Linked DNA regions of Homo sapiens: region 1 is linked to region 2. Evidence: fine-mapped expression QTL. A gene starts in region 2. The other region holds a variant in brackets. All regions are shown on one strand. Distances are from middle to middle. Region 1 overlaps NKIRAS2 (NFKB inhibitor interacting Ras like 2). Region 2 holds the start of ACLY (ATP citrate lyase).

Evidence for each region.
Region 1: its variant is fine-mapped to the expression of ACLY in whole blood (TOPMed, PIP above 0.99).

What each region holds. Positions count from the first base shown.
Region 1 is chr17:42,024,920-42,040,380 of GRCh38, forward strand. It overlaps NKIRAS2 (NFKB inhibitor interacting Ras like 2), which reads left to right. Exons shown (of 4, transcript NM_017595.6): 4 at 1-722. ZNF385C (zinc finger protein 385C) reads right to left here. Exons shown (of 9, transcript NM_001392013.1): 3 at 12,818-12,966; 4 at 9,306-9,416; 5 at 6,700-6,865; 6 at 3,864-4,154; 7 at 3,131-3,327; 8 at 2,699-2,809; 9 at 657-2,214. The coding sequence ends at 1,978. It overlaps C17orf113 (chromosome 17 open reading frame 113), which reads right to left. Exons shown (of 3, transcript NM_001358661.2): 3 at 13,313-15,461. The coding sequence ends at 14,786. Among named protein-coding and RNA genes, the nearest start is that of NKIRAS2, 13 kb to the left of the region's middle. RefSeq lists enhancers at 18-67, 3,838-4,626. The variant G/A (reference allele first, on the strand shown) is at 3,973.
Region 2 is chr17:41,910,678-41,926,138 of GRCh38, forward strand. It overlaps ACLY (ATP citrate lyase), which reads right to left and starts at 8,274. Exons shown (of 29, transcript NM_001096.3): 1 at 8,203-8,274; 2 at 3,038-3,219; 3 at 1,743-1,865. The coding sequence starts at 3,196. RefSeq lists enhancers at 1-567, 67-566 and silencers at 7,677-7,916, 8,397-8,656.

The DNA of each region.
Region 1 (15,461 bases), 110 kb after region 2:
TCCCCTCTCTGGGCATCAGTTTCTCATCTGTAAGATGACCAGAGTTGCTTAGATGATCTCCTAGATCCTTTCCAGTTCTCTTGATTTCGTAAAGCCAATGGCTTCTCCCTCTTTAAGGTGCTATGCCAACCAGCCCTGGAGGCTGGGATCTGCCGCTCCCTCCAGCCACCAGGGGGCAGGAGTGCACTACCTGCTGTCAGTCACCAGAGTGGCCGCTCAGTGCCCAGCCCGCCAGCCTCGCTCTTGGAGGCTGCTCTTTATCCTGCCTGTGGTTTTCAGCTCAGAGCTGGACTTCTATTTATAAGTTACCTGTATTTATATTTATATGCCCGCTCTCATGGTGAAGGCTGGACAAGGTGCTCCTCTGGCCCCTCCTTCTTACCTCAGATGCCTGAACAGAACAAGGCAAACCCGTAGCAGCCTCTCAGGAGCTGACAGGTCCTCTTTCGGGGCTCAGGAGGGTGGGCACACACCCAGCGGCCTGCAGAGTAAGCTTATTACCCACAACTGTGCCCGCTTTGTGCTTCTAAGGTGCACACCTAGCCTAGGTGAGACACTGCAGCCAGGCAACCACCGACACACGCCCCTTCTCAAAGCCAGAGGTGAGTGGGGCAGGTGCCCGGGGCTGGGTGAGTGGAATTAGGACACACACAGGCTTGGGCTTCAAGTTCATTTATTGATGCATTGGTTGGACACAATAAAACCACAATTGTTATCAAAAAGTTTCCCTCCCCTCCCCCTTTTTCTGGTTCTCCCATTGGAAATGTCTTTAAAAAACAAAAAAAAGATACAGGGGGATACTGGCAGGGTCCCATATTGTGGGGTGGGGAGGGGGCAGTGCTGCAGTGGAAAGGAGTTTGTGACATTGACATTGACAGCATGAAAATGGGTCTTGCCAGTGCATGTGAGACTGCCTCCCAACACTCAGCTTCACAGTGGCAGGGGCTGGTTGGGAGAAGGGAAAGCTGAATTTAGTGCTAGGACCAGTTTGGAGTGGGAAGCTGTAGGGGAAAGCTCTTCCTTTGGGAGCTCTGCGGGGGGTTCGGTGTTAGCTGAGTCCATAGTCTGAGGGAGACCCACACCCGCCCTCCAAGAGTTGGGGTTCAGGAAGTCAGAGAAAGGCTAAGAAGAAGAGCTTCTGAGGGATGAGTTACTCCCTCAATATTAAGACTGGGCTTATCAGCAAGTATCACTTGAACCAGGGAGGCAGAGGCTGCATGCAGTGAGCCAAGATTGCACCACTGCACTCTAACCTGGGCAACAGAATGATACTCTCAGACAGAAAAAAAGACTGGGCCCATGAATGCCCAGAAGACTTAAGATTAAAACAAAACCCTGGGCCCAACCAGAACATCACCTCCTCTCTTAGTCCCACCCCTTCAGAGCAGATGAAGCCCCCAAAAGCTTTCAGAACCAGCCCCACTACCTCCTTGGCTCTGCCCCACCTTAGCACTGCTGATCGAAGGACTTTTGGGTCCCCCTTTCTCCTCCATGGTCCTCTGTCACACTCCCATGGTCACCTTGTCCTGACAGCCTTGAGCCTGCTGCAGCTAGAGACCCCATCCCTATCTCCAGTGAAGCCCCAAAGCCTAGGAATAGAGGTCAGAGAGTCGTCCCCTGGCTAGGAGAGGATGGCTTGTAGAAGCTAAGATTCCTAGAGTCTGGCCATGTGGGTCTTGGGTGGAGGAAAGTGAGAGCACCACATGGCTGGGGCTGAGATTTTGCATAGATCTTTGGGGTCTGTCAGGGTGGGAAATGCAGGCAAGCCTAGGATTAACCCTGGAAGGCCTGCGAAAGGAGGGTGGGGACAGTCCTTGGAAGGCAGCTGCCCTTAAAACTAGCCCAGCTCTTTCTGGATCGGGCAGGACCCCTGAAGCTGTTCACAGTCCCTGTGGCATGTAGGAAACCAAGGTGTCTCAGGACAGGAGGAGACAAGGAGTGGCTATTGGGAAATCAGCTCTGGCCTCCCCATGAGGGCTAATAAGGGGCAAGGACGATAGGTCCTGTGGCAGGGCGGACAGCTCCTGCTGGGGTGCGAAACAGAGCTGGGCCCAGGATGGGAGCCGGGAAGAGGGTAGTGGCTGCTGTAGGGGCAGGGCGGAGGGCCAGGGGCCCTGGCAGAGCACAGATGGCAGTGGCTGCGGTGGGGAGCGGGCTGGGCAGGAAGCGGGCTGCCAACGTCTTGGTGAGTTGCTTCTGCAAGGCCAGTTTAGACTACACGGAAAAGAAAGGAATGGACACAGTCTCCACCCCAGAAAACCCCACCCCCTCCCTGGGGCCCATCCTCAAGCTTTTTGCTGCAGGGAAAGCGTGCCTTTTAGAGTTCCAAACCTAAATCCTCCTCCCTTCCCACCCCCAAACATTCATTCCGAAGGGCTTTCTCCACCACCTGTCTTCCTGTCCAGAGGGAGGAAAGTCTCAGCATGGGAGAAGGGAGGAGGATTTACGGGATAGAGATGGTCTCTAGGAGATGCACGCCCACCCCTCACTCTTGCCCCTAAGATGACTATCCCAACCCACCTCCCCGGAAATTCCTCTGCGCAGATCCCAGTTCCCAGGCCTAGCTCTGTCACTGCCCAGCAGCCTCATTGCAGGGTGGCCTCTTTTCCTGCCCCACCGCAGCCCCCCCATCTGGCCCTCCCAGCCCACCCTCTCCCCTCCTGACCCAGTCCCAGCTCTGTTGCCTGGAGACAGATACCTTGAGGATACTCACAGCCAGCGCTGCGTGCTTCTGCAGCTTGCTGTGCTGGCTGGAGGGCTTGGGGGTCTTCCCGGCCAGGCGGTCTTTGTGCCTCCTGCTGCTCATGTGCTAATGGACAGACAGACAGACTGGGAACAAGATGACAAAGCCCAAGGACCCCAAGACCATCATCCTCGACTCTTCCCCTTCCTCTATCCACAGCTCATACATCCAAAGCACACAGACTGGGTCCTCACCCTGGGGTAGGCCCTGGGAAGGGGAGGTGAGTCTTGGCCTTTGCCCTTAATTGGCCCACTGGCCTGCTGGCCTCGCTTCTCCAGCCTGCTCTGCTGTGCCCTGCCTGCTCTCTTCAGGGTCCCTCCCTCTGCTGCCCTGCCCCCCAACCCCCTCCCCTGGCTCCAACCCCAGTCACAGCCTCACTTCTCCCACCTGCTTCAGTTGGGTCTCTGAATTGACCTGGAGCTGACAGAGAGCACAGTGGAAGGCAGGGCTGGGCCCCTGCCGGCCGCCCCGGCCCCCTGTGACTCTCTTGGCTTTGTGTCCGGCACCTCCCCTGGACACCGGGCGGCCCCGGCTCCTCCGGGGAGCCCCTCGCTGACCTTCCATCATCCACCGGTGCTTGGCTCCTGGAGAGGGAAGAAGGCAGTCTCTCAGCAGCAGGAAGGGGTTGCAGGGGCCACAGAGACCCCCTCCACACTCATGCAATTTGGCTCTCCCTGTAAGCCTCACGGCTGCTCTGTGCACACATCGCCCTCCAGCCACACGTGGTTTCCCCTCCCAGCTTCTGTCCTTTCATGCCAGCCCCTCCTATGAAAGGCCTTTCTGCACTACAAATAGCTGCCTTCCCCTTTGCTTTGATCTCAGTCCTTTCCTTCTGGGTGTAATCTAAGGAGAGAGGCAGATGTCTCCTGTCTCCTGTGGAGTGACCCTTCAGAGATTTAGCGACCTTCAGTTCTTGCTGCCTCAGACTTCTCTTCCCAATTCTCCTTCCCCAAGGAGTAATGGGAGGACCCAGAAACGTCCGTTCAGTAACACACAAGCACAAAGCCTCCGCCATCCAACCCTTGAGCGAAGCACCCAGGAACTCAAGCCTGCCCTCATCTGGCGAGGCTTAGCTTCTGTCCCACCCTTTCCCTGGGCTCCAGCTCCTGGGACTACTGACCTGTGTTGTGAGCCTGAAGCTGGGAGGCCGAGTTCACTGTCACCTTACACGTGGGGCAGTAGAGGTGCCCCTTCTCACTCCTGCCTTCCCCACTCATGCTGCTTCCCAC[G/A]GCAGCTGCCGCTGGCTCAGGCCCCGGTGCCTCTCTCCCAGGCTCTGGGGAGCAAGGTGGGCAGGAGGAAGAAGAGGATGAGGAGGCAGCATCCAAGAGCTCTGAGTGGGCTGGCTCCCTGCATGTAGGGTCTGGAGTTGGTGGTGGCTGGAGTGGAGGCCCAAGAGGAGGGGCTGCAGGAACTGCTGCAGAGATGGAAGAGTGTGAGACCCAAGATGACGCTGCAGACCACGATCTTCAGCTCTGACCATGGAGGTGGCCTGGAGGGCCCCTGGTGGATGACCAGCACTGAATTCCAGGCCCCACTTTTCTACCAACTCACTGGGCAGACTTGGGCCTCAGTTTCCCCATCTGAAATCATTAAGTTGGACACAGTGGTCTCAGAAAGCCCTCACAGCCCTCATATCCTTATTTGCTAACTTAAACAGAGATCACCAAAAAAGATGTACTAGAATGTTCAGAGAACACTATTCATAATATCATAAAACTGAAACTACCCACATGTCCACCAACAGGAGAGCAGATTTTTAAAAAACAATGGTGCGGGCTGGATACGGTGGCTCATGTCTGTAATCCGAGCACTTTGGGAGGCCGAGGCAGGTGGATCACCTAAGGTCAGGAGTTCGAGACTGGCCTGGCCAACATGGTGAAACCCTATCTCTACTAAAAATACAGAATTAGGCGTGGTGGCACATGCCTATAATCCCAGCTACTCGGGAGGCTGAGGCAGGAGAATCGCTTGAACCTGCAAGGTGGAGGTTACAGTGAACTGAGATCACACCACTGCACTCCAGCCTGGGCGACAGAGTGAAACGCCATCTCAAAAACAAACAAACAAACAAAAAAAACACAGTGGTATGGGCCAGACGCAGTGGCTCACGCCTGTGATCCCAACACTTTGGGAGGCCAAGGTTAGCAGATCACTTGAGTCCAGGACTTCGAGACCAGACTGGGTGACACAGCGAAACACCATCTGTACTAAAAATACAAAAATTAGCCAGGCATGGTGGCACATGCCTATAGTTCCAACTACTTGGGAGGCTGAGGCAGGAGAATCGCTTGAGAGCCAGGGAGGTGGATGAGCCTAGGTCACACCACTGCACTCCAGCCTGGGTGACAGAGCCAGACCCTGTCTCAAAAAAAAAAAGAGCTTTTAAGAATTTAAATTAAAAAAAAATAGTGGTATGATCCACGGTGGAGTACTACACAGCAATGAAAGAGAACAAACTACAGCTACACGCAAAAACATGGATGAATCTTACAGATATAATGAATGTTGATGAATGTTTGTGAGAGATGAATAAAAACTAGATACCGGCCAGGCAGGGTGGCTCACGCCTGTAATCCCAGCACTTTGGGAGGCCGAGGTGGGTGGATCACAAGGTCAGGAGTTCGAGACCAGCCTGGCCAATATGGTGAAACCCCGTTTCTACTAAAAATACAAAAATTAGCTGGACGTGGTGGCAGGTACCTGTAGTCCCAGCTACTTGGAAGGCTGAGGTAGGAGAATGGCTTGAACCCAGGAAGCAGAGGTTGCAGTGAGCCAAGATTGCACCGCTGTGCTCCAGCCTGGGAGACAGAGCGAGACTCTGTCTCAAAAAACAAACAAACAAAACAAAAAAAACCCACAAAACAAAACAGATACAAAAAAACCCCTGCACACTCTATGTTTCACCAAAAATAGGTAAAGCTGATCTATGCTGAGAAAAGTCAGGATCGTATTTACCATCAGAGGGGTTGTAGTTAGTTGAATAGTGTCTCCCCCAAAATTCACATCTATCTGGAACCTCAGAATGTGACCTTATTTGGAAACAGGGTCTTTGAAGATAAAATTAGTTAAGATGAGGTCATGCTGGGTTCGGGTGGGATTGATCTAGTGACTGGTACCCTTATAAAAAGAGCTTGTGGAAACACAGGGACACACAAGGGAGAATGTGGAGATGGAGGTGGAGATTGGAGTGATGCGTCTATAAGCCAAGGAGTGCCAAGGAATACTGGCAGCCACCAAAGGCCAGAAGAGAAGCATGGGACACTTTCTCCTCTAAGCCCCCAAGAAGGAACCAATGCTGTCAACGCCTTGATTTCAGACTTCTGGCCTCCAGAGCTGTGTGAAAATAAATTTTTGTTGTTTTCAGTCACCCAGGTTGTAGTCTCTTTTTTTGGGGGTGGGGGTGGGCAGGGGAGGTTAGAGACAAGGTTTTGCTCTGTCACCCATAGCTCACTGCAGCCTCGACCTCCTGGGCTTAAGCAGATCCTCCTGCTTCAGCCTCCTGAGTAGCTGGGACTACAGGTGTGCATCATCATGCCTGGCAAATAAATTTTTTGTAGAGACAGGGTCACACCATGTTTCCCAGACTGGTCTCAAACTCCAGGCTTAAAGCAATCCTCCCGCCTCAGCCTCCCAAAGTGTTAACCATCACAACATGTGAGCCACCATTCCTAACTTCACAAATGAAGTCATTTGTGAAGGCAGCCCTTGGAAATGAATACTTCAAGGTAATGACCAGGAGGAGGTGCAAGACAAGCTTCTGAGGTGCTGGTAACGTGTTTCCTGATCTGGGTGTGTTCAGCTTAGGAAAATTCATGGCGTGGTACACTTGTGTGCCTTTGCCTGTCTGTATGGAATACTCCAACACAAGCAAAAAGAATAAGCAGAAATCTCTCAACCCCTTGTCGGAAACCAGATTTGGAGTGGAGACGTGGGAAAGAGAAGAGCTCAGGACTGACCTTTACTCTGTGGCTCTCCAGGGGCTCCACTGGCCAGCGTTGGGATTGGGGACACTACAGCCCCATCCTGGGCCTGGGTGTGTGGCCTCTGCTTGCTCTTGGCAGCCTCGACAGCCTTGAGTTTTCTGGCGTGTTTGTGGCCTTTATAATGTGCCTCGGCCTGGTTCTGGGGAGGGGAGGGCAAGAGGTCACCATTCACTGGCTGAGTCCACATGCCCCATCTGTGAACTGGAGCCCAGCAGGGGGACAGGTCAAAGGGAGGCAGGGCTCAGGTCACACAAAGGGCAAGTCCTTGTCCTTGTCATCATCATCACCATAGCACATGTGGCTCTGAGGTTTGCAGAATGTGTTCTCGCACATGAACTCCAAGGCAGGCTGCCTCTGGCTTCAGATCTGACCCAGCCACTTACTAACCACATCTTTTTGTTGTTGTTGTTGTTGTTTTTGTTTTTTGTTTTTTGAGATGGAGTCTCGCTCTGTCGCCCAGGCTGGAGTGCAGTGGCGCCATCTCAGCTCACTGCAACCTCCGCCTCCCGGGTTCAAGCGATTCTTCTGCCTCAGCCTCCGGGGTAGCTGGGACTACAGGCGCCCGCCACCACACCCGGCTAATTTTTTGTATTTTTAGTAGAGACGGGGTTTCACCATATTAGCCAGGATGGTCTCGATCTCCTGCCTCGTGATCCACCCGCCTCAGCCTCCCAAAGTGCTGGGATTACAGGCGTGAGCCACCACGCCTGGCCACTAACTACATCTTTAGGCAAGTAACATCTCTCTGAGCCTGAGTCTCCTCACCCATAAACCCTGTGATGATAATACTGACCTCATGGGGTTGTCAGAATTACATGGGAACATGAATTACAAGGGCCGAGTACATAGAGTAGGTGCTCAATGAATGTTAGTTATCAAGTGTATCAATGCACAAATGGAGAAAGCAGAGCAATCCCCACACTTTGGGGTGTATGTACCCCAGAACATTCATCCCTTTGTTCATTTGTTCAACAAGTCATTACTGAGCATTTGCTATTTGCCAGGCACTGTGCCCGGGGTCCGGCAGGAAGAAGAATGGTTCCTCCCTCAGAACGAATTCTCTCCTCCATCTTTTTTTTTTTTTGAGACGGAATCTCGCTTTGTCACCCAGGCTGGAGTGCAACGGGAGCAATCTAGGCTCACTGTAACCTCTGCCTCCTGGGTTCAAGCGATTCTCCTGCCTCAGCCTCCCGAGTAGCTGGGATTACAGGCACCTGTCACCACAACTGGCTGCTTTTTTTTTTTTCTTCTGTATTTTAGTAGAGATGGGGTTTCACCATGTTGGCCAGGCTGGTCTCTAACTCCTGACCTCAAGTGATCCACCCACCTTGGCCTCCCAAAGTGCTGGGATTACAGGCATGAGCCACCACGCCCAGCCTCTCCTCCATCTCTTGCAGGACTCATGGAACCAGAAGGCCTGAAGGGAATCCTCAAATCTGGTCTGTCAGTGTCCTCCCTCCAAGGGTCCTCACTTGCTGCTCCCCGGCCCACCTCCTTGAAACATGGGAAAGACAGGCCCCCATGGCCCCTCCCTGGATGCTATACCACAGCAGTTCTGCTGGCATCCAACCGAAACCCCAGATTGCCTAACAGGAGGTAGACCTTCCCTGGGAGGCCAGAATGAGGTTCCTCCTCTACCTAGTGGTAAGATGTAGTAGAAAGGGGTAGGCTGTAGTAGAAAGTCATAGACCTTGGGGTCAGCCAGGCCTGGATTCATATCCCAGCTTTGCTACTTACCAGCTGTGTGGTCTTAGGCAAGTCACTTAACCTCTCTAAGGCTCACTTTCCTCATCTGAAAATCGGGGATTATAATAGCGCCTCTAGGCCAGGCGCGGTGGCTCACACCTGTAATCCCAGCATGTTGGGAGGTTGAGGTGGGTGGATCACTTGAGCCCAGGAGTTCGAGACCAGCTTGGGCAACATGGTGAAACCCTGTATCTGCCAAAAATATAAAAAAATTAGCCAGGCGTGGTAGCACATGCCTGTAATCCCAGCTACTAGGGAAGCTGAGGCACAAGAATCACTTGAACCCTGGAGGTGGAGGCTGCAGTGAGCCAAGATTGCGCCACTGCACTCCCGCCTGGGTGACAGAGTGAGACCTTGTCTAAAAAAACAAAACAAAACAAAAAAATCCCGCCTCCACCCGTCTCACAGATGTATCATGAAAACTATTATTTAAGGGGATGGGCATGATCACATTCTGTAAACTCTCAGGTGCCTTAAGAGCTCAGCTCCAGACCAGGAGCTGATGAGATGGGCCACTGGGACCTGGAGTGGAGGAAGGGCAGTCTTCTCTCTTGCAGAAGGATCCAGAACACAGGAGAGAGGCCTGGGGGGAAGGAAATGGAATCCCACTGGGCTACAGCTGGGCAGAAGGGGAAGGGGCAGAAGAATCTAGAGAGAGGAGAGGATGCGATGGTTAAAGGACCAAGAGTGCCTCTTCTGCAGCCAGGGTGGAAAATACCGACCACAGCCCCTTTGCCACTGATATTCCTCCCAGAAGGACTCTGAAAGCCCAGCCTCCAGCCCTCTCCCTGCCCAGCCCCCTCCCCAGACCTGCTTTCACTACTTTGTCTCACCGCTGAGTTGAACCTCAGGTGACAGATGTTACAGGAAATGAACAGCTTCTTCTTCAGAGGGGAGGGGACACCAAACGTGTGGCTGATGACAGCTTTCTGGACCGGGTCCATCTGTGAAGGGAGTGGGAGGGCATAATAACTCTGGGGTTGGCTTGGGAAGCAGGGGTCGGGGGCAGCACAAAATGCCCAAAACTAAAGATGACTGAAGAGGGCCTTGGTCAGCTTCTAGGAAGAACTTTTCCATCCTGTGGATGTTGGAAAGAGAAACAGCTGGGCCAGGCGCGGTGGCTCACACCTGTAATCCCAGCACTTTGGGAGGCCGAGGCAGGCAGATCACCTCAGGTTGGGAGTTCAAGACCAGCCTGACCAACATGGAGAAACCCCATCTCTACTAAAAAAAAAATACAAAATTAGCCAGGTGTGATGGCGCATGCCTGTAATCTCAGCTACTCGGGAGGCTGAGGCAGGAGAATTGCTTGAACCAGGGAGATGGAGGTTGCGGTGAACCGAGAGCAGGCCATTACACTCCAGCCTGGGCAACAAGAGCGAAACTTCGTCTCAAAAAAAAAAAAAAGAAAAGAAAAAGAAAAAGAAAAGGAAAGAAAGAAGAAGAAACAGCTGCCTGGGTGCAGTGGCTCACGCCTGTAATCCCATCACTTTGGGAGGCCAAGATGGGTGAATCACCTGAGGTCAGGAGTTCAAGACCAGCCTGGCCAAGAGAAACTCCTTCTCTACTAAAAATACAAAAATTAGCCAGGTGTGGTGGCACGTGCCTGTAGTCTCAGCTACTCAGGAGGCTGAGGCAGGAGGCTTGAACCTCAGAGGCAGAGGTTGCAGTGAGCTGAGATTGCGCCACTGCACTCCAGCCTGGGCAACAGAGTGAGACTCTGTCTCAAAAAAAAAAAAAAAAAAAAAGAGAAGAGAAAAGAAAAGAAAGGAAAAGAAAAGAAAAGAAAAATACACAGCCTCTCCCGGCTGTCTTTATTTGTCAGCCTAGGCTTCTGCTTGGAAGCAGGGGAATGGCCAGAGTGCCCTGCATGTTTCTGGGACATAGAACCATGTCCTGGTGATCACCTTGGCATCTCTTGGTGCCCCTTAGGTCATTATTTTTGTTTTTTGTTTTTCTCCTTTGCAATAATTACAACTATTGGGACAGAGAGTTGGAAACAAGGAGAGGCAGGGAAGAGACAAAGAACTCGTCTGTTGGAATTTCCTCTCCCATCACCCAGGCTTCATGCAGGGACCTGTGGGCTGGGGGAAGATAAGTCCTATCTCATCAGCTCTATCACTGTCACAGGGCCTGAGGCTGCTGACGACCTTTTTTTTTTTTTTTTTTTTTTTTTATAAGATGGAATACTGCTCTGTCGCCCAGGCTGGAGTGCAGTGGCATGATCTCAGCTCACTGCAACTTCCACCTCTCAGGTTCAAGTGATTCTGCTGCCTCAGCCTCCCGAGTAGCTGGGATTACAGGCGCCCACCACTACGTCTGGCTAATTTTTGTTATTTTTAGTAGAGACAGGGTTTCACCATGTTGGCCAGGCTGGTCTCGAACTCCTGCCCTCAAAATGATCCGCCTGCCTTGGCCTCCCAATGTGCTGGAATTACAGGTGTGAGCCACCGTGCCCAGCCATGACGACCTCTCTTGAGAGAGTGAGAGCCACAGCCAGGGGAGGTGGGGGGCCAGTAGGGGGCAGGGAGCAGCAAGTGGAGGCCTAAGGTTCCCCAAGGAGTAGGATCGTTTCTTTGGAATATTAATTTGGATTTTTTTTCTTTTCCTTATTATTTTTTTGAGATGGAGTCTCCCTCTTGTCGCCCAGGCTGGAGTGCAATGGCGGAGCCAAAATCTTGCAACCTCCGCTTCCTGGGCTCAAGCGATTCTCCTGCCTCAGCCTCCCAAGTAGCTGGGACTACAGGTGCCCACTACCATGCTCGGCTAATTTTTGTATTTTTAGTAGAGATGGGGTTTCACCATCTCTGTTGGCCAGGCTAGTCTCAAACTCCTGACCTCAGATGATCAGCCCACCTCAGCCTCCCAAAGTGCTGGGATGACAGGCATGAGCCACTGCACCTAGCTTCTTTTCCTTATTTTAAATCATTTTTTTCTTCTATAGAATTAAGGCTTTATGTTCCCTTTTCTCAGGAAGTTGGGCCAAATGCAGCTGTCTGAACTTGTCAAGAACTTTCCAGGCTGGGCGTGGTGGCTCACACCTGTAATCCCAGCACTTTGGGAGGCCGAGGTGGGAGGATCCCTTGAGCTCCAGAGTTTGAGACCAGCCTGGGTAATATAGTGAGACCTCATCTCTGCTTATATAAAAATAAAATAAAATAAAAAAGGAACTTTCCAAACCTTCCCAAGAAAAGAAAACAGAGCTTAGAGAGAAGAACATGGGTGCAGAAACTTCCCTGAGAACAGAAAGTGGTTCAAATTTTCACAGCACCCAGGGCCAGCAAGGGGCTCAGGGGACAGGACCTCAGAGGAGAATGGCCTGCAGGGGCCCCCTGCAATTGGAACCATGCCATTCAACAGTGAGCCTGTCAGCAAGCGACAGCAAGGACTCAAGACCAGAGGACCACCCCCCAAATGCCTCAGACTCCTTAGGACCTCTGTCTAACTCTGGAGGGTGGGAGGGAAGGGATTCCTAAGTGTGACTGAGGTGGAGTTTGCCACCATCTGCTCAGGATGGGGCATGCCACACCCATGATTTCACTTGAGTTTTCAAAATTTAAAAAAACAGAGATGGTTGCTGATCCCTCATATAGTGAATTAAAATTCATATACTTGTTATGCACACGTGTACAAGGAAATGTACAGACTAGGACACACACACAGCACAGAAGCTTCAGGCAGTTACAAATGCTCAGACAAGCAGAACAATTCACACTCATGCACACAAAGGGCACATGACCACAGGTAAACTCACAATCACCCAAGCCACACAAAAACACGCATGCTCAGAGGGCAGATACACGCCAAACACACAAAAGACACAAGGACACAATAAACCCTCAGATTGTGCAGGCACATACCTTAATTACATAAAATTACCCATGCACAAAGAGTTGTTTACAAACACACGTTGGACACCAACACACAAACTCACATCCACATATAACATACAAAACCTATAGAAACTACAACAAAAAGGCACAGGTTACACACACACACACACACACACACACACACACACACACACACGTCATCCACAGGAGCGCCTACACAGAAGCTTAAGTGGAATGCACAGACTACAGGCCCTTGCAGGCCCAGCAGCTATGATGGTGGGGGTGGGGAAAGGGCTGACACCATCTTGTTCCCCAGCCTAAGAGAGAGCGGGTCCCTCTCTTAGGATCCCAAATAGGGGTCCCTATTTGGGGAGCACCTATCCCCTCTGGGGGATGTTGGAGAAAAAGCTCCTGGTTAGACCCAGCTGCTGAGAGCTGGACCCTCTGAACCCACCTTCTGTGCCCACCCACAAGCTTGTGTGCATGCCCCCACCCGCCAGCCCAGCCCATACCGTGCTGAAGTTGGGGAAGAGACTGAGCGGGGCAGCGCCATTGAAGTGGAAGGCGAGCAAGTGCTTGAAGTCCAGCGGGGGCTGCAGAGGCCGGGTGGGCAGGGGCAGGGAGGCCAGCAGGGGGCTGGGGGCGCCGGAGGCCGGGCCTGCTGCAGGAGGAAGAAGGGCAGGGTCTGAAATGGGCTCTGTCCTACCCCCGTGGCCAGAACAAGAGGCGGGTGGGCTTCTTGGGTGTGGAGCTGGGCAGAAACCTGTGTCTCTCTTCACAGAGTGGCACCAGCCAGACCCATAGTGATTATAGCCCCCTTCTCTGTGCCCTTCCTCCCCACAGCTGGGGAAGCAGAGGCAGGGAGTCCACAGTTGAGGCTCCCAGCCCAGAGGGATGACCCTCCTGCCCCTACTGAGGCAGCATACTGAACCCCAGGGCAGCCCAGCCAAGAGAGGGACAGAGGGGTCTGGGCAGGCCCTGACACACACACCACCATGGAGACTGCATGATGTGCTGGGATTCCATTTTATTGCAAATTAAACTCAAACCCAGGGGTATTAGGAAAAGGCTAGCCCTCGCCCCTCTCACTCTCTAACTATCCTCCCTCCCTCCAGATCCCCAGGATTTCATGGCCAGGGCTGACAGGAGGGAATGGGAAACCCATGGGCTCTGAAGGGATGTGCTCCCCAGCTCTGATGAGGCCTAAACTGCTTCCCCCAGGAGGTAAATAAGCCAACATTCCTGGGTTGGGCCTCGACGCCAGTCCTTGGAGGTGGCAGGTACAGCACTGTGGTTTTGCAGTCTTTGGTCTTAAAGGTCTGAGGCAAGGGCAGGGGAGGGGTAGGAACTTGGAGAGCAACTGGACTTTGAGGAAGAAAATATCAGAAAAAAAAAAAAATCCAGCCCATCTGGGGCTTTTTTCGACCCTGTCATTGCAAAACCAAAAGTAGTCCTTTTAGATGTTTGTGTGGTAACACTATGAAAGATAGCATAGATTTATTTCACATTTGTAGGTTTTTATGTCTATATACACAGTTATACACAGAAAAGGCCTGAGGCTGCCTATTGGTGAGGAGGGAAGGAAGGGAACCACTATCTCTCTGGAACCATTGGCCCTTGAACCACCAGCTTGTGTACAGAGAGGACACTGTGCTGTGTGTCAGAAACAAGCACGGTCATCTACTCCCCAGTCATAGCTGAAGAGAAGAGACACTGCCAGGAGTGGGGCTAAGAAACAGCCAAGGACCAGACGCAGTGGCTCATGCCTGTAATCCCAGCATTTTGGGAGGCCGAGGCAGGTGGATCACTTGAGGTCAGGAGTTCGAGACCAGCCTGGCCAACATGGTGAAACCCTGTCTCTACTAAAAATACATAAGTTAGCCAGGCATGGTGGCAGGCGCCTGTAATCCCAGCTACTCAGGAGGCTGAGGCAGGAGAATTGCTTGAACCCAGGAGGCAGAGGTTGCAGTGAGCCAAGATCACACCACTGCACTCCAGCCTGGGCGACAGAGCAAGACTCCATCTCAAAAAAAGAAAAAAAAAGAAAAGAAAAAGAAAGAAACAGCCAAGGACCAAGGACCAGTGTCCGTTCCCTCAGCCACTCAATTTCCAAGACCTAGTCTTCCTTCCCCAAGCCAAAAACTCCCATCTTTGGGGGGACCCAAACTTGCCCCGAGTCCAGAAGGGAAAAGGGTGAGCTACTCCTCATCTAACTGTGTAAAGGCCAGGAATGATTTAGGGTACCCCAGATCCTAGCATCTCTGCCCACCCGCCCAGGCCCCTCTTGAGCCAGTCCCTTCCTCCACAGCCCACAGGGTGGGGGGGGTTGGTGGGAAGCTCCAGAAGGGCGGGTGGATGGCCTCAGGCCCCTGGGAGGCTGCAGTCAGCAGATCATCTTGGGTGCAGCATGGTCAAGTCTAGGTTGGCCCTTACAGTGCCCAGGGCCCCAGGCTGGATGGGCCGAGGGAAGGAGGCCACCCTCAGGTGAGCTGCGACCCCAGGAAGCCCTCTCCCCACCCACTCTCTAAGAACTCCACAGCCAACCCGAAGTCAAACTCGTGCAGCGGGGGCCCATCCACTGCGATCTTCACCATGTGGCCCCCCCGGCCTTCCCCGGCCCCACTCTGCCCCCACCACCGCAGCTCCCGGCTGCGGCCGACCTTGTCCAGCAGGCCAGCGCCCGCGGGCAGCGCCAAAGCCAAGGCGGCTAGGGCGGCGAAGTCGGGGAAGAGCTCGTGCAGCTCCGAGTGCGCGCACGCCAGCTGGGTGCACAGGGCCCGCGGGCCGAGCCGCCCAAGGCCGAATACTACGCGCTTAAACAGCGCGAAGTCGCCCAGCGCCCGCTGGCGCACCACGGCAGGAGCAAAGCCGCGCAGCAGCACCCGCAGCGCCCCCTCGCCATGCGTGCCCAGCTCCTCCGGCGCCTGCGGGTAGCGTCGGGGGTCGAAGATCGCTGCGAAGGCGGCCACGGCGTCCAGCGAAGGCCCGGGGTAGGAGTCCTGTAGGCCCTTCCGCATGGAGTCCAGGAAGGATCCCCGGAGCCACTCCAAGCCCCGGACCGCAGCCTCGGAGTAACCGAGCAGCTCCACGCCGCGGTAGGTGCAGCGTCCGCTGCTGGCGTCAGGGTCCATGGATGCCAGTTCCTGCAGGAAGCCC
Region 2 (15,461 bases):
TCAGGACATGGGTCCGGGCGCAGGGAATGGGTGGAGAAGTGGGGAGCCAGGGCTTAATCAGGGAAACTTCTCCACGCAGACTCTCCTGGCTGAGGACCACAGGCCTGCAGAGCTAATCAGTTCGAGTGATTCCCTGGCGGCGGCTGTGGCGAGACAGCCCTCATCCTAGTAAGTCCCAAAACCCCCGCCTGGCCTGTGCGTCACTGCTGAGTCAGGGACCAGACAGCAATCCATAAGAGGTAATGAGCCACTCCTGCTGGCCCAACGCTGCTGCCAGCTCAGATGTCTGATGTCCCACCTTCCCCTCCCAGAGGCCAGCAGAAGGAAGCAGGATGTGCTCCCTGGGGACATGCTCAGCATCCCTCCCTCCAATCCCACCATCCTCTCTCCAAAGGCCTGGGAACTCAAGGGACAGGTCGCTTCACGCCTGGGTCCATGTGCAACTTCAAGGATCCCGCTTTACCCATGAGGGCCAGAAACTGGGAAATTAACATTTAAGGGCTACTCTGAGGAAGCCCAATGAGGGAGGAAGACATCTCCATCACCACCTTCATTGCTATTCTCGAGGCAGCCAAGGAAGAGAACAGCTCATCCCTGGTACAGTTTCACCCCAGATGAGCACCAGGCCCTTCAGAGCCACGTGCTCTACAGAGCCAGGTGTGGATGGCACATTCTTCCCAGGCTAGGCCAGGCCTCAGCTCCACTCCCTCCCTTAGTCCTCCAGCTCCCCTGGGGAATAAGAAGAAACATAATTTTATTCCAGGCATCTCTTACCCTTCCTAAACCATGTTTCACTTTAACTCTCTCATCTACGTGGTTGAAATTCATCACCAAGCTGGGAGAAGTTAATAATTGAATTTGGGCTTGGTGGCACACATCTGTGGTTCCAGCTACATGGGAGGCTGAGGCAGGAGGATTCCCTGAGGCCAGAAGTTCGAGACCAGCCTGGGTAACATTCAAGACCCTAACTCTATAAAAAAATGTTAAAAAGCAGCCTGGATGGTGGCATGCACCTATAGTCCCGGATACTCAGGAAGCTGAGGTGGGAGGATAACTTGAACCTGGGAAGTGGAGGCTGTAGTGAGATGTGAACATGCCACTGCACTACAGCCTTGAGTGACAGTGTGAGACCCTGTCTTAAAAAAAAATAAAGTAGGCCGGGCGCAGTGGCTCATGCCTATAATCCCAGCACTTTGGGAAGCCGAGGCAGGCAGATTACCTGAGGTCAGGAGTTCGAGACCAGCCTGGCCAACATGGAGAAACCTCGTCTCTACTAAAAATACAAAATTAGCCAAGTATGGTGCTGCATGCCTGTAATCTCAGCTACTCAGAAGGCTGGGGCTAGAAAATCGCTTGAACCCAGGAGGCGGAGGTTGCAGTGAGCCAAGATCACGCCACTGCACTCCAGCCTGGGCTACAGAGCAAGACCCTGTCAAAAAAAAAAAAAAAAAGAATCAGACCATTTCCACCTGGCTCTTGAATTATATTGAGGTTACCTCTGCAGCACATCTTGCCCAAACCAATAAAACAAAGAAGTTTGGATGATGAGGGAGCTGGGAATGGGCATCAAGACTGAGCCTACTGCTGGCAGCCACCTGAGTGGGTCAGCGCCACAGGACTCCTGCCTTCCCTGAGCTACAATGAGACTGGCTGTGGGGGTGATCCACAGAGCTGCTGACCTGGAGGTGACCATATTTGCTTCTGTTACCACACACGTTCATCCTGACCCCATGCCCACTCACTGTGGCTTCCTGTCCCAGCCGTGGCTTCAGCCAGGACTTGACCCCATCCAGAGTGAGGTTGACCCCAACGAGACCAAGTTTTCCACGACGTTTGATCAGCTGGTCTGGCTTGACTACCAAGTTCTGGAACAAAAGCGGTTTGTATTTAGAGTGAGGAAGAATTAGATAAACCGTAGTATTTTGGGGATCCAAATAGAGGACAGCAGGGATTGACTTCCCATTCACTCTGCTCCAAAGCCAGCCCTAACCATCCTTCAGAGTCAACTCCTGGATGCTTCCTCCACCTACCCTAGCCAATATCTTGCTTTTGACAACCAGGTATCTAGAGGCATTTGTGCCCAGATGGAGCCTGGCACAGAGTAGGCGCTCAGCAAATACCTGCTGAGTGAATAAGTGATTCTCTACCCTCCCTATGTGATACATTAGCTTCTTCATTCAACAGTAAGCCCCTCAGAATATGGACCAGAACATGTGTTCCAAAGAGGAAAACAGAGAGACAGAGCCTTGAGGCAGCAAGGAACCTTAGAGGTCATCTGGTCAACCCCATCCCTGTGCTTGAACCCTGTCTACAACAGGCCCAATAAGCAGCCCCTAACCACTGCTCATACATCTCCAGGGCCAGGAAACTCCCTCCATCCCTTTGTGGTTGAGCTGCCTCCTAGTGGGAAGAAACACCACCACTAGTCCTAGGCTTACTCTCTGAGCCCTGCCAAGGAAATCTAAGAGCTTTCTAACAATGGCCCTGCAAAGATCTCAAGAACAGAGCCCTCTATTCCAGGCTGACCCTCCAGGGTCGGGGCCATTCTTCACAAAGTACAACATCACACTTCCTAATTGCCTTGATACATTCCTGATATACTCCACTTAGGGGAGGAGAGGGCACATCCCTACTTTTTACTGAGCATCTACCATGTGCCAGGCACCAAGCACGCTAAATGCTTCTTGCTAATCTTTACAGCTCAAAGTGAGTATTATCCCATTGGAGAGATGGGGAATCTAAAACTCAAAAGAGGTGAAATGGCTTGCCCCAGGCCACATGGTTAATAAACACAGCTTTGATTTGGACACCAGTTTGTCCAGTTTCAAGCCCATGGCAGGGTATACCATGCTGGGGTACCTCAACATGCAGGGCTCAGCATGAACACAAACCCTGCTCAGCCCATGGCATGCTTCCCACAGCTGCTGCTGGCAGCCTCCAACCCCATGACCCTATCGGCATCACCAACAAACCAATGGCTTTCTCTTCCTCAGACCCCGGGCCTGGAAGAAAGGCCCAAAGTGGAGGCAGGGCTCACCTGGCTGAGCAGCCAGGGGTGGTCCTGCAGCAAGCGGGCCCAGTCTGTGTCAGGAGTGACCCGAGCATACTTGAACCGATTCTGGATGGCTGAGGTGGTACAGATGAACTTGTAAAGGAGTTCTTTGCCCGTCTGCTCTGAAATTGCCTTGGCCGACATGGCTGCAGAGAGACCTGCTCTACCTGTCTGGGAGAGAGAAGCTGGTCAGAAGGGGGCAGGCGTGTGGAGGCACTATCTTCCCCAGCAGGGCAGACCCACTCCCAGTTGCCCCCAGACAATAAAACCAGATCTCAGCTTTTCTCAAGAGGAAGGAAAAAATGCTGTCCCAGCGGGAGGGATGGAAGAGAGATATCAAGCAGCACTTTTGCCAGCAGAGGAAGAAGATCCAGAGATAATGGGTGAGGGAAGATAGAGAAAAACAAAAGTGCCATTTCCCCTGGGACTCTTGCCTTACCCTGCCCCATTCCCTCTAGGCAAACTAGCTGATCCACAACCACACTCATCCTGGAGCAAAAGGCAGCTGGCTAGAAGGCCAAGAAAACCGGTGCTTTGACCCAAATCTGAGTGCTGGTCCCATCTGAGGTGGGCAGACACTGAAACACCTTTCTGTTCTCTGACCAGTGCAGAGTACGGCTGAAATTGCAAAAGGCTAGCCTTTCTCTCCCTACAGGTTTCATCTCCCCCACACCCAGATTTACCCCTATACACACCCTTACACACCACCGGGCCAATGGCCAAGCCAGCAAGTTTACTTAGCCTCAAAAAGGGTCACACCCCCAGGTCCTGGTTAGAAGGGGAGTAGGGGAGGGGGGAGGATCATCGCTAAGCTCTTTTCTCCTCTTTTCTCCTGGACACTAGCCTCCCAATCCTGAGTATGGAGCAGACACAGGGCAGGGAAACCGACCTTTAGCACATTCCACCCGCCCCACTGCGTCATCCAGCTGCTAATTTAGAGCAAAACTCACTAAGAAGAACAGATGCCTCTCTGGGGACCACCCTGTAGTGGTCACTTCTAACTGGGGCGGACTGAGAGGAGGAGGAGGAAGAGGCAGAAACCATCCTCCATCACATGTATAGGAAAACTCATCTTGGAGTTCGAGGCTACAGTGAGCTATGATTGCACCGCTGCACTGTAGCCTGGGTGTCAGAGCAAGACCTTGTGTCTAAAAAAAGATAAAAAGAAACTCATCTCATATGAGCTCTGGGAGGTACACTGAGATTTATAACCCCATTTCTTAGATGAGGAATAAAATCTCAGAGGCGTTAGGATAACTTGCCCAAGAAGCCCACCTAATAATAAGCAAGGTTATGACCCAAGACTCGAACCCAAACCCTCTTACACCTAGGTCCCCAGAAAAATCCACACCAGCCCAAGAAAAGACCATTTTTCCAAGAGCCAGGCCCATGTGTCCTTTTCACTTCAAAGAGTCTATGATAAGAATTTCATCATCTCCCCTCTCCAAGACTCTGTCCTGATACACCCATTCTCCTGTGGGTAACTCAAGGACTGAGCTGGGGAGGGGAATCGGGGGAGGTGGGCATGGAAATTCAGGCCAAGAGCTTGGCCGGATCAGGAAAAGTCACTCCTGACTCCCCCAAAGCCCAGAAGCAAAGCTGTTTAATTTGCTGGGGGAGAAAAAAGTCAAGTACAAATAAAGGAGGGCAGAGTGAAGGAGCCGGCTTGTTTACACGTGCTGGAAGTTGGGTCTCCGTTCCCAACTCAGAGAAGGCCAACATTCCAGGGGCTACATTGCGCCCCCTCCCAATCGGCCAGGCTGGTGGGGCTTCAGGTTCTCATCCTGGCTTGGCTGCCTCTGTCGGCCTCCTAGCTAGTATCCAGCATGGCACAATGGGTGTATTCAGCCTGGTGTCTGCCTAAAGTGGGGTAGCTGGGAAGGGGCTCAGAGATGTTCCCTTTTCTGGCCTTCCCCTGGAATGACTTGAGATTCCTTCTCAGTATGAGTTTCCAGAGACGTCCCAACCACCTCACTGCCCCACGGTCCTCCACCCCCCACCCACTGCTCCATTTCCCAATATTTTTGACTCAGACCAGAAAAACTGGTCCTCAGATTGAATGGGTACAGCCCCCACCCCCTTCCAAAGAGAGTGCAGCCCAGGGCAGATCAAGGAACACTCAGAGAGGAGGGGGCAGTGGCTGACCATCCTCAGCAATTCAGACTCCTTCCATAACTCCAGGGGAAAGGAAGTCCCTGGGCTATGCCTCTCTAGAAGAAAGAAGTCTGAGACTCCCAGTAAAACAGTCCCCTGAACCTGGCACCTCCAAAACAGACACAAGACCCAACTTTGGAAAGGACAAGGGAGAAAAAATGGACCCCTGCAGCTGAGAAATCACAGTTTTCTTGAGACCCAGATCAAATTTCAGGTCCAAGAGCCCATCTCCATAGGGTCTTTGGAAGGGGGATAGGAGAGAAGACACAATGGGATAATACAGGATAGAAAACAAGAGATTTGCCACTAGAGCATTCTGGCTTAGAGACGGGAGGTTGAGACAAGGAATGTATACAACATAATAAAAATAAGGCCTCTGCAAATTCACCAATAAAGAGAAGGCAAATGGCTCACAAACCCAGGGAGTGGACTCAGTAGAGATAAATCGCAACTTTAGTGGTTCAGTGAGGTCTTCTGTTTTTTTGTTTTGTTTTGTTTTTTTTTTTTTGAGAAGGACTCTGGCTCTGTCGCCCAGGCTGGCGTGCAGTGGAGTGATCTCGGCTCACTGCAACCTCAGCCTCCCAGGTTCAAGTGATTCTCCTGCCGCAGCCTCCTGAGTAGCTGGGATTACAGATGCACGCCACCACGCCCATCTAATTTTTTTTGTATTTTTAGTAGAGGCGGGGTTTCACCATGTTGGTCAGGCTGGTCTCGAACTCCTGACCTCGTGATCCACCCACCTCAGCCTCCCAAAGTGCTGGGATTTACAGGCATGAGCCACCACGCCCGGCCTTCAGTGAGGTCTTAAAGTCTCTCTAAGGCAGTGGCTCTTAACCTCTTTGAGGCCTCAGACTCTTCTGAGACTGAAAAAAACCCCAGAAAAAGGTACACAAATCCAATTGTGCATATTGTTTCAAGGTGCTCACCTGTGACAATGATCCGATGGCCCACAGACTGACCACCAGTTAAGAACATTTGCGGCCAGGCACGGTGGCTTGCGCCTGTAATCCCAGCACTTCGGGAGGCCAAGGAGGGCAAATCACGAGGTCAGGAGTTTGAGACCAGCCTGGCCAATATGGTGAAACCCTGTTTCTACTAAAAATACAAAAATTAGCCGGGCGTGGTGGTGCACACCTGTAGCTACTGGGGAGGCTGAGGCAGGAGAATCGCTAGAACCCAGGAGGCGGAGGTTGCAGTGAACCGAGATCCACCACTGCACTCCAGCCTGCCGACAGAGCAAGACTCTGTCTCAAAAAAAAAAAAAAAAAAAAAAGAATATTTGCTCTAGTGGAATCAGCAAATACCTACAAATACCTATCTGGGTTTGGGACCGCTCCCCAGAACGTCTTAGTCTGCCTCCCCAGTAGCTGAATGTGCTGTCAAACAAGTAACAGATGATTGGGCTGAGCTTGGACTCCAGGAACTGTTACTTGGTAACAGCTAAATGTGTAAACCATTTGGGGGAAATCATGCCAAGGAACCTGAAAACACACACATACACACATTCTCTAAGGGAGGGGCCTTATGAGCTGAATGGAGTCTTTCTGCAGACGGGTGAGTGACCCAGGATTGAGTTCACTTTTAGCAGACACTGAGAGAAGCAGCCCACACAGGAGGCTGAATGAAAGAAGCCTGTTCCCCAGAACACGCCCCTGGGACACAGCCAGGGGAAGGGAATCACTGGGGATGCTACTAAGGGTGCCTCTGGGAAAGACAAAAACACTCATTTGAAGGTTAGTATCTGCAGGATTGGGACTTACGTATGTAGGTATTTATTTATTTATTTTTTGAGAAGACAGGCAATCCCTGGAGTAAATTCTAGAGAGGCAGAATTCTGTGAGTGCCCCTTACTGCGGCAGGCATAGTGTCAGAACGGGGATGGAGCCATAAGCTGTCCAGTGTCTGAGGGGTCTTCCCACTACCGCCCCCCAAGCTGTTTAGGAAGGTTTCTAAGAGGTGAAAATCACCCATCTGGGCAAATGAGACCTACCAGCTGTCCCTCACCCCACATTTTAGTTCAGCTGAGCCAGCTGAAAACACAGAGGAAAGTTAAGGGTGGAGAGGAGTAGGCTAGCTGGCCAAACTGTGCTGTGCACTTTTCCTTATCGTCTCTTCCAAAATCCTCTTCCCAGGAAGACCTCCAGGGACCCCATAACGGCAGAACTCGGCACTGCACGGTATCTGCCAAGGTTGGAGACCGCGGCAGGCGCTGGGACTGGCCCATTGCCAGGCTCGACAGGAGGGCGGCGGCAGCATCCTCCAGCCCCTTGAGGACCTTTCCCCGGCCAGACTTGGCGTCAGCTCAAGGGTGGGGTGGCACCCCGGCCATCTGTCACTTAGGGGCTGGACTCGACGATACCTCCAGTGCGAGGAGGGTCCTTGCTGCGAGATTCCAGTCCTCGCGGCGAGACGAGGCGAGGCCTCGGGCACCCTGGGGCAGCCTGGCCCCGCGTGGCCCGCCCCGGAGGCGCGCATAGCTCATTCTCTCCACTTGGGCGTGGAGCTCAATTTTGTACCCACGGAACCAAGAAGGGCCTGAGCCCGGCCAGTGAGGAATCGGAGTGGGACCAGTCGCCACCGCTTTCTCTACTTCCCGTCCCGGCATCCGATGGGGGAACCCGGATGGAGCCAAAAGGCGTCCCGATGAGCCCGAGGAGCCTCGATAGCTGTGCCCGGGAGGGGTGAGGCGCGCCAGGAGGGGGACCATGCAATGTGGCAGAGGCAGAAGAGGCAAGGATGGCGGCAAGCCCCATGCAAACTCCCAGGAACTGGAATATGTGTGTGTCGCGCGGGGGGAGGGGAGGGGCGTCGACACGCGGCCACCGGCCGGGACCCCGGGCGAAGGCTAACCTAAAGCTAAGACCCTCAAAACTTCCGAGCAGGGCGCGTGGGCACCGAGCCCGCGTCGGGGAAGGCGGTTCCGGGTTGGGGGACGGAGGCAGGAAGCTCCTAGGGCGAGCGGGCTCCAGCCAGCGAAAACAGCCTCCCGTGCTCACCTCTGCCGAAGTCCGTGCGCGGCGCTTCTTCCACAGGCCCGACGAACCCCGCAAAATCCGGAGCACCCCAGCAGCCGGTAGCTTCCCGGGATCCGGCTTTTGTCCCGGCCCAGCCGGACTTTTCCCCGCCCCCATCGGCTCGCGGCGAGAACGGCCCCGCGATTGGCCACACGCGTTCCCTAGCCTGAGCGCCAGGGCTCCTCCCAATTCGCTGCTGGCTTGGCTCCGCCCCACGAGGGCGGGCCCCGGGGCCTGCTGGGACTTGTAGTCCCGCTGGCCCATCCACCGCCTCTTGGGAGCCTGCGGGGCCGGGGCGGGGCCCCGGGTGGGGAGATGGGCCGGGCTAGGCTGGGAGGAGAACGCGCGGTGCTGGGGGTTGTGGCCTGATCGCTTGAGGGGCTGGACAGATTGCCACTCGGGGAGTTGGGGGAGGGGCGGGTAGGATTAGCCCAACTGGCTGTAACGCAGCTTTGGGACCTGGAGTACCCTTGCTCCTTCCCTTGGGAGAAACGGACGTCTGCATCTCGGCCGCACCGAATCCGATTGCTTAGACAGTCTCCTTAAGCAGCAGTGTCTGGCAGGCCGCTTTCCTTTAGCACGTGGAGCCTCTCTCCTCCCTGGACTCTCCCCACTGGGCCGATGAGGCAAGGCTGAGCCGAGGCTAACAGAGCATACTTCCCAGTGTGGGATAAGGCAGGGGCCGCGGTAAGCAAGTGGGGCTAGGAGGGTGCAGGCACAGCGCTGTCCGTCCCACTCACCTGCTCGCCTCAGCACGGATCAGGGCGGAGCTAGGAATTCAATGCGAGATTCCAGCGAAGGGCTGGAGCCATCCCAGACAGTCTCTTGTTCCCACCAACCACAGGCTTAGACACTGGAATGAATGAACTGCTGTCTCCCCCTTCTCCATTACCTGAGACAGATCGAATTTTCCAAACCAAAAACTGGGACATCCAATCTGACAGGTGCTGGTGAACTTGTGGGGCAGAATATGTGAAATCAGTCCTGGAAATCAGGACATGTATTTACCACTCTGACATGCTGCAGCCTCCCTCCCTACCTGCACCCCAACCCTGTAGGTCCGGAGCTGCTCCCTAAGCCTAACAGCTGTCTAGCTCCAGGAAGGAGGCCAAAAGCGTCCACTGACCGACTCAGGTGAAGAGGTCAGCCCAGAATGCAGGGAAGCAGCAGGCCTGTCCCCCTGCCAAGCACTTTGGGTCATACTCACACTGCAACAGTGTTGCGACATTTGCAGACAAAATCTTCTCCAAGACCCCCTCCCCCAATCCTGTTGCTGCCAGGAGTAAGGTAACTGAACTTGCTACCCATGCCTGAATCAAGTGTTCCCTGATGATGTCACTTTCTGGTCCCTTCCCTCCCATTCATCTTTTTGAAATAGCAGTTCCTTATCACCTCTCTTCTCTTGTCCTAAAATGGGGGTGGCCAGTCTTGGTGGCTCACACCTGTAATCCCAGCACTTTGGAAGGCCAAGGTGGGGGATCACTTGAGGTCAGGAGTTCAAGACCAACAAGGCAAAACCCCATCTCTACAAAAAATACAAAAATTAGCCAGGCATGGTGGCACACGCCTATAAATCCCAGCTACTCTTGAGGTTGAGGCATGAGAATCGCTTAAACCCGGGAGGTGGAGGTTGCAGTGAGGTGAGATTGCACCACTGCACTCCAACCTGGGTGACAGAGAAGGATTCTATCTCAAAAAAAAAAAAAAAAAAAAAAAGATACACTCCAGGCAAGGCATGCTGTCTCATGCCTGTAATCCCAGAATTTTGGAAGGCCAAGTCAGGCAGATTGCTAGAGCCCAGAAGTTCAAGTACAGCCTGGGTAACATGGTAAGAGCCCCCACCACCACCATCAAATCTCTACAAAAAATAAAAAGACCGGGCGTGGTGATTCACATGCCTGTAATCCCAGCAATTTGGGAGGCCTAGGTGGGTAGATCACCTGAGTTCGAGGTCAAGCGTTCCAGACCAGCCTGGCCAACAGGTGAAACCCTGTTTCTACTAAAAATACAAAAAATTAGCTGGGCGTGGTGGCAGGTGCCTGTAATCCCAGCTACTCAGGAGGCTGAGTCAGGAGAATCGCTTGAACCCAGGAGGCGGAGGCAGGAGAATCGCTTGAACCCAGGAGGCGGAGGCAGGAGAATCGCTTGAACCCAGGAGGCGGAGGTTGCAGTGAGCCGAGATCGCACCAGTGCACTCTAGCGGGGGCAACAAGACCAAAACTCCATCTCAAAGCAAAAAAAAAAAAAAAATTTAGCTGGGCACTGTATCGGGTGCCTGTAATCTCAGCTACCTGGGAGGCTGAGGCAGGAGAATTGCTTGAACCCAGGAGGCAGAGGTTGCAGTGAGCAGAGATCGTGCCATTGCACTCCAGCCTGGGCCACAGAGTGAGACTCCGTCTCAAAACAAAACAAAACAAAACAAAAAAATAAACAAAAATTAGCAGGGCATGGTGGTGCACACCTGTAGTCCCAGCTACTTGGGAGACCGAGGTGGAAGGATCACTTGAGTCCAGGAGATCAAGGCTGCAGTGAGCTGAGATTGTGCACTCCAGCCTGGGCGACAGGGTGTGACCCTGTCTCAGAAAAAAAAAAAAAAAACAAAAAAGAAAAAAAGGAAAAGAAAAGAAAGAAGGAAGGAAGGAAATACTCCTGGGAGGCCAGGTGCATAGGCTCAGGCCTGTAATCCCATCACTTTGAGAGGCCAAGGAGGGCTTGAGCCCAGGAGTTCCAACCCAGCCTTGGCAATACAGTGAGTCTATGTCACTACAAAAAATAAAAAATTAGCTGGGCAGCTGGGCATGCTGGCTCACGCCTATAATCCGAGCACTTTGGTAGGCCAAGGTGGGAAAATCACTTGCGTCCAGGAGTTCAAAACCAGCCTGGGCAACATAGTGAGTCACTGTCTCAAAAAAAAAAAATTAGCTAGGCATGGTGGCACACACCTGTAGTCCAAGCTACTCAGGAGGCAGAGGTGGGAGAATCACTTGAGCCCAGGAGGTCAAAGACGCAGTGAGCTGGGTGGGCACGGTGGCTCGAGCCTGTAATCCCAGCACTTTGGGAGGCTGAGGCAGGCAGATCACTTGAGGCCAGGAGTTCGAGACCAGCCTGGCCAACATGGCAAAACCCATCTCTACTAAAAATACAAAAAATTAGCTGGATGTGGTGGCACATGCCTGTAATCCCAGTTACTCGGGAGGCTGGCTGGGTGCAGTGGCTCACGCCTATAATCCCAACACTTGGGGAGGCCGAGGCGGGCGGATCACAAGGTCAGGAGATTGAGACTATCCTGGCTAACAAAGTGAAACCCAAGCTCTACTAAAAATACAAAAAAAATAGCCGGGCATGGTGGCACGTGCCTGTAGTCCCAGCTACTCAGGAGGCTGAGGCAGGAGAATCGTTTGAACCCAGGAGGCGGAGGTTGCAGTGAGCCGAGATCACGCCACTGCACTCCAGGCTGGGTGACAGAGCGAGACAAAAAAAAAAAAAAAAAAAAAAGATGCAGTCAGCCGTGACTGCACCACTGAACATCAGCCTGGGTGACAGAGTGAGACCCTGTATGAGAAAAAAAAAAAGAAAGACAAATACACTCCTGGGGAAATGGTCATCCAGGCGGGACATAAAATATAATAAACTCTTTGAAGGTCAATTTGGTAATATCAGTAAACATTTTAAATTCACTTGCCCTTTGGTCCAGTAATTCCACTTCTAATAATTTATCCTTCAGATATACTTGCGTATGTGCATGACGAAGATAGGGATCTTTGTCTATTTTCTTCATTGCTGTATTTCTAGCAGTTTAAATAGGGACTGGTTACACAGTAAGTACTCAATAAATGTTTGCTGAATGATTGTCCTCCATTTAGGTGTTGCTAGGCCTAAGTTTGACTATTCCTGGGCAGGAACAACAAAAAATAACTGTCCAGAGAGTGAGGGGGAAGAGGTGCTGGCCAGAGGGCCCATGAGCCAGCCACTGAGGTTTTCCAGTTCACTCAGTGGTCTCATACCAAGTTTCTGCCCCCAACGCCCAGCCTCCTCAAGTAAGACTCTCTCATTACCCCACCATGCACCCACAGAGGTTCATCTGCCTTGAATTAATCAATCTAGAACCCATCTTCTCATCATTCTATTTTCTAACTTAAAAGCTCTAAACCAGGCTGGGTGCAGTGGCTCACGCCTGTAATCCCAACACTTTGGGAGGCCAAGGCGGGTGGACTGCCTGAGCTCAGGAGTTCAAAACCAGTCTGGCTAACATGGCAAAACCCCCATCTCTACAAAAAATAAAAAATAAAATAAAAGCTCTAAACTCTTTTGATTTTCCCATTTGAATCACCTCCCTCCTCTTCTAGACTGGACTAGAGGACAGGTCCCTATCAGAATACAGAGGGTTATAGGCACCATCTCCAAGCCCAGGTTTGGGCATTCCACCTGGGTTCCAGAAGCCTAAAACTGGCTAAGGACTTCCTCCTAGATTTGGACCAATTTTAGTTAATATTTATTGAGCACCTACTATGTGAAAGGCATACTACTCACAGCAGCCACTTGAGCTAACTAAGTGTTTTCATCATTTTGCCTATGATCAACTAACCTAATGATCTTCAGACTCCAAGTCCTTGGGCCTGTACCCTGCAACCTGCTGCAGGTGAGTAAGAGGGAAAGATCCTATCCAGTGGATCTCCTTTATCTGACTGTAAGCAACCCAAGGCCTAGGAGAGTGCCTTGTTCATTTTGGCATCTCCAGTGCCTAGCATGGGACTGGACACATATTAAGCATTCACTGTAAACATGACTAAAAAAAGGCTCTTATAATATGTGAATGAAAGAAAGCAATTGTAGGGGAAGGGCAGGGAGAGGAGGGAGGAGATGCAGCCTGGAGAAGGGTCTACCTAAGTGTCCAGTTCTACTATTTTTTTGTTTGTTTGTTTGTTTGTTTTGAGAGGGAGTCTCACCCTGTCACCCAGGCTGGAGTGCAATGGTGTGATCTGGGCTCACTTCAACCTCCACCTCCCAGGTTCAAACGATTCTCCTGCCTCAGCCTCCTGAGTAGCTGGGATTACAGGTGCCCGCCACCATGCCCAGCTAATTTTTCTATTTTGAGTAGAAATGAGGTTTCGCCATGTTGGCCAGGCTGGTCTTTAACTCCAGACCTCATGATCCGCCTGCCTCGGCATCCCAATGTGCTGGGATTACAGGTGTGAGCCACCACGCCCGGCCCAGTTCTACTATTTTTTTCTTTTTATTTATTTATTTTTTATTTATTTATTTTTTGAGACTGAGTCTCGCTCTGTCACCCAAGCTAGAGTGCAGTGGCGTGATCTCGGCTCACTGCAACCTCCGCCTCCTGGGTTCAAGTGATTCTCCTGTCTCGCCCTCCCAAGTAGCTGAGACTACAGGCACGTGCCACCACACCCGGCTGATTTTTTTTTTTATTTTTAGTAGAGATGGGGTTTCACCATGTTAGCCAGGATGGTCTCAATCTCCTGACCTCGTGATCCGCCCGCCTCAGCCTCCCAAAGTGCTAGGATTACATGCGTGAGCCACCGTGCCCGGCTACTATTTTTTTCAAATGCATTTTCTGTTTATGTAGAGTATCCAGTTCTAAACCCACCTCTCTCCTTGTAACAGCCCAAGACAGGAGCTTCCAGCAAAGCCCCATCATCATCCACCCTGTGAAGAGCCAAGGATTCTAACTTCCGCACCACTCACTTTTGCCCAGTACTGACAAACCTTCCATCAGAGCTAAGGGCCTGTGTGTCCTGGGGAAGGCTCTCCAGGGAGATGCAGCCAGGGCCCCTCTCTCTAACCCGACAGAGGCTGCCTGCCACCAGGGAAGCTGGAGGGATGGCTAGTTCCACTCCTGGGCAGCAGTTATCTCTCTGGGGATGCAGCATCTGTGCTCAGGGAATAAAGTTTCTCCATGCAGCCCAACCAGGTCCAGGCTGGCCCCTTCCCAGAGTCACCCCCACTCCATTCTGACTCTCTCTCAAAAACTGCCACTGCCTCCTCCCCACCAGGTATGTTCCTATAAAATTCCCTCCTCTTTCAGGAAGAACCTGTGCAGCCCCTCCCACACACATAAATCACTTACCCTTGACTTTTACATATGACACGTTTAAACTTATCTCTGAATGAGTTTATTATTATTATTATTATTATTTTGAGATGGAGTTTCACTCTTTTGCCCAGGCTGGAGTGAAGTGGCGCGATCTCCGCTCACTGCAACCTCTGCCTTCTGGGTTCAAGCGATTCTCCTGCCTCAGCCTCCCAAGAAGCTGGGGTTACAGGCGCCCACCACCACACAGGGTGGTGGAGGTTCAGCGAGCCGAGATCCTGCAACTGCCCTCCACCCTGGGCGACAGAGCGAAACTCTGTCTCAAAATAAATAAATAAATGAAAATAAAAAAATAAAAGGAGTCTTCTGGCCAGGCATGATGGTTCATGCCTGTAATTCCAGCATTTTGGGAAGCCAAGGCAGGAGGATTGCCTGAGCTCAAGAGTTCAAGACCAGCCTGGGCAACATTGCAAAACACCTTCTCTACCAAAAAAAAAAAAAAAAAAACCCAAAAATTAGCAGGGTGTGATGGCATGCACCTGTAGTTCCAGCTACTGGGGAGGCTGAGGTGGGAGGATTGCTTGAGCCCAGGAGGGTGGAGGTTGCAGTGAGCCGAGATTGTGCCACTGCACTCCAGCCTTTATTTAGACACTCTGTCTAAATAAATAATAAATAAATAAAAGTAATCTTCTGACTGTTGTGTTGAGAAGGAAGTGGGGGAGGGGAGGCCAAGGAGACCCACTTAGAAGGATGTTGAAGTAATCCAGGAGAGAGATGATGAGGGCTCACAGTGAAGGCAGTAGTTACCTGGAGAGGGAGCTGTGAGTGGAGAGAGGCCTTTCACAGGACCCCCTGCTAGCAATATGTTTCTTGATTTACCTGTGTGATGACTACATAGGTGTACTTTTTTTTTTTTGAGAGAGAGTCTTGCTCTGTCGCCCAGGCTGGAGTGCAGTGGTGTGATCATGGCTCACTGCAACCTCTGCCTCTCGGGTTCAAGTGATTCTCCTGCCTCGGCCTCTGGTACAGCTGGGATTACAGGTGTGTGCCACCACACCAGGCTAATTTTTGTATTTTTGGTAGAGATGGGGCTTCACCATGTTGGCCAGCCTGGTCTTGAACTCCCGACTCGAGGTGATCTGCCTGCCTTGGCCTCCGAAAGTGCTGGGATTACAGGAGTGAGCCACCACGC